Linked DNA regions of Homo sapiens: region 1 is linked to region 2. The links come from fine-mapping of genetic effects on gene expression. A gene starts in region 2. The other region holds a variant in brackets. All regions are shown on one strand. Distances are from middle to middle. Region 1 overlaps LINC02320 (long intergenic non-protein coding RNA 2320). Region 2 holds the start of PPP2R5C (protein phosphatase 2 regulatory subunit B'gamma).

The links. PIP is the estimated chance that this variant, and not a neighbour inherited with it, causes the effect.
Region 1: its variant is fine-mapped to the expression of PPP2R5C in aorta (GTEx, PIP above 0.99). The same link has a PIP of 0.9 or more in lung, thyroid and tibial artery.

What each region holds. Positions count from the first base shown.
Region 1 is chr14:101,658,864-101,661,665 of GRCh38, reverse strand. The region is part of intron 1 of LINC02320 (long intergenic non-protein coding RNA 2320); the gene reads left to right. Among named protein-coding and RNA genes, the nearest start is that of LINC00239, 70 kb to the left of the region's middle. The variant C/T (reference allele first, on the strand shown) is at 1,064.
Region 2 is chr14:101,760,142-101,762,943 of GRCh38, reverse strand. PPP2R5C (protein phosphatase 2 regulatory subunit B'gamma) reads right to left here and starts at 1,235. Exons shown (of 16, transcript NM_001352913.2): 1 at 1,024-1,235; 2 at 1-39. The coding sequence starts at 1,050. RefSeq lists silencers at 600-669, 720-939, 1,080-1,319, 1,330-1,489, 1,950-1,999 and 2 more.

The DNA.
Region 1 (2,802 bases), 100 kb after region 2:
TCCAAATTATGTCAGATCCTTACCTAAAACTATATACAAAAATTAACTCGAAATGGATTACCTACTTGTAAGGCCTACAATTATAAGACTCTTAAAAGAGACAGGGCAAAATCTTCATGACATTGAATTTAGCAGTGATTTCTTGGATATGACACAAAAAGCACAGGCAACAAAAGAAAACATAGACTTATTAGACTTTATAATAATTGAAAAATTGTGTGCATCAAGAGGCAATCAACAGCTATTTTGCAAATCATATATTTGATAAGATATTAATGTTCAGAACATATACAGAACTCCTCAAACTCAAGACAAACAAAACCAAACAACCTGCTTCAAAAAATGGGCAAAGGACTCAAATAGATATTACTTTAAAGAAGATATACAGATGGCCAATAAGCACATGAAAAGATGCTCAACGTAACTAATCATTGGGGAAATGCAAATCAAAATTATGATGAAACACCATCTCACACCCATTACATGGCTATTTTAAAAAACACAAAATGAGAAGTGTTGGCAAGAATGTGGAGAAATTAGAGCCCTTGTACCATCTTGGTGGGAATGTAAAATGGTACAGCCACTGTGGGAAACAGTATGGCAATCTGTCAAAACATTAAAAATAGAATTACCATTTGATTCAGCAATTCCACTTCTGGGTATGTATCTAAAATAACTGAAAGTAGATTCACAAAGAAATGTTTATACAACCATGTTAATAGCAGCATTATTCACAATAGCTGAAATGTGGAAGCAACCCAAGTGTCCACTGATAGATGAATGAAGAAATAAAATGTATAAGGTTGTCCGTTGGTATACATGGGGGATTGGTTCCAGGACCTCCTGTGGATAAAAAAACCCACAGATGTTCAAGTCCCCAATGTAAAATAGTGTATTATTTGCATACAACTTATACACTTCCTCCCATGTACTTTAAATCATCTCTAGATTACTTATAATACCTAATATAATGTAAACATTATATAAATAGGTATACTGTATTGTTTAGGGAATAATGACAAGGAAAAAGTCTGTGCATGTTAAGTACATACGCAATTGTTTT[C/T]AAATATTTTTATCTGTGGTTGGTTGAATCCATGCATGCAGAACCCATGGATATGGATGAACAACTGTATACATATAATGGATTATTATTTGGCTTTAAAAAGGAAGGGAATTCTGATATATGCTACAAAATGGATGAACTTTGAGAACATTATGTTCAGCAAAATAAGCCCATCACACAAAGCCTATCATACAAAAAAAATACTGTATGATTCCACCTGTATGAGGTACTTAGAGTAGTCAAAATCACAGAGACAGAAAATAGGATAGTGGTTGCCAGGGGCTAGAGGAAGGTGGAAATGGGGAGTTACTGTTTAATGGTTATAGAGTTTTAGTTGTACACAATGAAAAGAGTTCTGGAGATGGATGGCTGCACAACATTGAAAACGTATTTAATACCACTGAACTGTATACTTGAAAATTGTTGAGATGGTAAATTTTGTGTTATATGTATTTTACCACAAGGAAGAAATTGGAAAAATAGTTAATACTGAGAAGCACTTTTAGCAGAAGCTGGAGGCAAGCTCTGACAGAGAATCTGATAGGGTATTTTCTCTTTCTAAGAGGAACAAAGATAGCAACCTTTCATTTTATGGAACACTGTGCACCAATACAACATTTCACTTACAATAAACCCAAATAAAAGAGCATCAGTGAGCTGTAGGACAAATTCAAAGTGGTCTAATATATGAGTAATACGGATAATTGGAGTTCCAAAGAGAAGAGAGAGAGGGAACAGAAAAAATATTTGAAGCAATAACAGCTAAATGTTTTTCTAAGTTTGATAAAAACTGTAAACTCACCTAAGAAACTTAACGAAGTCCAAGCACAAGAAACCTAAGGAAAACTATTCCAAAGCACATCATAATCAAATTACTCAAAATCGATGATAAGAGAAAAATCTTAAAAGCAGCCAGAGGAGAGCCAGCCTTGGTAGTGCACATCTGTAATCCCAGCTACTTGGGAGGTTGAGGTGGGAGGATTGCTGGAGCCCAGGAGTTCAAGACCAGCCTCAGCAACATGGCAAAGCCCCATCCCCCCAAAAACAAGAAAAAAAAAAGCAGCCAGAGGTCAGGGGTGGGAAATTATGTACATAGGAAAAAAGATAAAAATAATAGCACATTTCTTATTGGAAACAGTGAGGAAAAAGCAAAGAGACAGTGGAGCAACATCTTTAAAGTACTAAAATAAAAAACCTGCAACCTAGAATTCTATCTTAGTGAAAATATCTTTAAAAATGAGGGTAAAAATTAAAAGGTTTTTAGAAATACAAAAGCTGAAGGAGTTCATGACCAACAGACCTGCACTACAGGAAATGTTAAAGAAAATGTCAAGTAGAAGGAAAATTGTACCATGTAGAAATATGGATATACACAAAAGAATGAAGAGTATCTTAAATGGTAACTACATGGTAAATATGTAAGATTTTAAAAATTGTTTACACATCTTAAATATAAAAAGAATGACAACATATTGTTGGTTTTATACATTTATAGAAGAAAAATGTATGACAACAATAGCACAAAGGTCATAAGGAGAAAATAGAAGCGTACTAGTGCAAGTTTCCTATATTAGACGTGAAATGGTATAATATCTATCATTAAAGGTAGATTGTGATACATTAAAGATGTATACTGTAATTCTTAAAGCAATCACAAAAATAATAGAACAATGAGACCTACCAAGCCAAAAAAGCAGATAAAAACGACATAATAAAAAATATTCAAGTAATCCAAAAGA
Region 2 (2,802 bases):
TTTTGAACTTTTTCCACTCTTCCCTGCTTTTGGTGATTCCTGGTAAACATCAAGCAAAGTCAATTAGTCTTCTCACTTTTTAGACAGGTAAACATCAGATAAGCCAAATGCAGTTTTAAAAGTGATTTATACAACTACAGCTTCTGATATTTTTAATTCATACCATTAGGAAATTCTATATCATACCGTTTAGGATTCCAACAGTGCAATGCCCCCCAACCCCCATTCAGATTCTTTTCGTTTTATCTGCATTTGAGGTTGAAAACTTCAAGCAGAAAACAGATAAATCCAATTTTATACAGTGCTTCTGGCATTTTGAGATCCACATCACATCCCTTTCTACCCTCCCACCCTAAACCCTATGAGTGAGGATTTCTGGGGTGATAATGAAACGCTACAGAGCTCCACCTGAAGCAGAAACATACCCGCCCCCCCGAATGCAAACGCAGCACCCTTGCTCGCAGCCCTCACCGCCGCCGCCACCCAGGATAATAATAGTGTTCGAGAGCCCCAGAGCGTCCCTCCGGGGCGGCAGAGAATTCCTTACCAGCTCTCAGCGGGGTCCCTTCTCGCTCCCTTTCCCCCGTACAGGGGTCCCTCCCCAGGCGTCTACAGCCCCCATCCCTGAAGCTCCTTTCCGGGAGCCTGCGAGGCTGCGAACCCCCTCGGCGGCCGCACCTGCCCGCCCAAGCCCACGGCGCGCTGTCGGAAACGGGCGCCCCTCCGACCCCCTCCCCGGGCCGCGCCCTCCCTCCACGCCCAGCCCCGGCCCATCACGAAGGTCCCAGCGGCCCGGGCCTGCGCCCCGCGGCTCCGGCGCGATCCCCGGGCTCCCCGCCCCCACCGGGCATGAGGCCGAGAGAAGCCCGGGGATGCCTGGCTCGGCCGCCCTCGGGGACGCGAAGCCCGCGGCGTCAGGCGGGGAACTGAGCCGGGGCCCGGGCGCAGGACCCCGGTGCCGTCGCGCCCTCCCCCGGCAGTCCCTCCCTGCTCCCTCCGTCCCGCGGCCGGGCCCGGACTCACTTTCTCCTTCTTGTTTTTATTCGGCATGGCTGGAGCGGGCCGCCGCCGCCGCCGCCGCCCCTGCCGCCGCCTGCCCCCGCAGCAGCAGCGCCCCCGCCCCGGCCGTCGCGCCCCCGCGGCCGCCGCCGCCGCCGCCGCCCGGGGACTGAGTCTTTCGCTTGCTCTCGCTTCCCCTTTTCCAGACTCCCAGAGGCTGCGGCAGCCACGGCGGCGGCGGCGGCGGCGGCGGCGGCAGCGGCGGCGTCTCTCCGCCCCTCCCCCGGCCGGCCCGCCCCGCCCCTCTCCTCCCACCCCCCGGCCGGCCGCCCCGCCCCGCCCGCCGCTCGCCCCACCCCCGCGCCCGGCCCCGCCCCGCTGCACTCAACAGCGCCCTGCCATTGGTCGACGCGCCCCCACGTACCCTAACGCTCCCCGCTCCCCCCACCCTCTCCGCGCGACCCGTTCACGCCCCCGCCCTCCGTCCCGAGTCGCTGCGAGCCGGCCTCAGGCAGGCCGCGGCCTCCTGGCGCGGGGCTGACCGCTGAGCAGAGCTGAGCCGACTCAGGGGAGGGAGCATGTGGCTGCGACTGCGGTGACAGGGCCGTGGCCCGCTGTGGAGGCGCAAGACAGAGCGTGAGACGTAGGAAATGCACATTTGAAATGTATGGCAACAACTTCTGCAGCCGGCGAAACGCGAACCGTGGCCTCTTGGCCTTGCCCCCTCACCGCCGCGGCTCTCGTTGCAGTCAAGAGTGCCTGGCACGCTTTGCACTGAGGCGCACGGGGAGGCCCGGGAACCGAGCGAGCGGCAGTTTCGCGGGACACCGCTGGGCCCCGCCTCCCCTCCCTTCCCTCCCCTCCCCTTCCCTCCTCTCCCTCCACTCCCCTCCCCTCCGTCCCCTCCCCTCGACCACCCCGTCCCCTGCCCTCCCCTTCTCTCGACCAGCCCGTCCCCTGCCCTCCCCTCCCCTCCCCTCGACCAGCCCGTCCCCTCCCCTCCTCTTCCCTCGGCCAGCCCCTCCCCTCGGCCAGCCCTTCCCCTCGACCAACCCCTCTCCTCGACCGGCCCCTCCCCTCGACCGGCCCCTCCCCTTGGCCGGGCCCTCCCCTTGACCGGCCCCTCCCCTCGACCGGCCCCTCCCCTCGGCCGGCCCCTTCCCTCGGCCAGCCCCTCCCCTCGACCAGCCCCTCCCCTCGACCAGCCCCTCCCCTCACCAGCTCAGCTTTCCGCAGCTCCTCCCGCGAGGTCCCGCCCATCCGACAGCCCGCCCCTCCCTGGTTGGTCCCGCCCTCCGCAGTTTCTCCCGCAAGGTCCCGCCTACCCGACAGTCCCGTCCTTTCCTGGTTGGTCCCGCCCTCCGCAGCTTTTGCCGCGAGGTCCCACCCACCCGACAGCCCCGCCCCTCTCCAGTCGGCCCCGCCCTCCGCAGCTCCTTCCGCGAGGTCACGCCCACATGCGCAGCCCCTCTCCTCCGGCGTCGGCCCCGCCCACCGAGGCGAGGCCTCAAAGACTTGGTGGCCGCTGCGCCAATAGGATTTTATTTTTATTCTTTAATTTGGCTTGATCATAAATGGTGAGGAAACCTCTGCATGACTGGGAGTCACCTGATTTCTCTCAGCTTGTTAATAGCTGTGAGGAGAGGGTGTCCAAGGGAAAAACGTTAACTTTTCAATACAATACTTCCGCGGTCCACCTCGTGCCCAAAACTATTGAAGACGCTAAGGACAGGCGTCCCAGATTGCAGAAATGCATTAGGTAGTAAGACTCTAGGAGCGTACGGATTTCACGTGCGAGAGGCA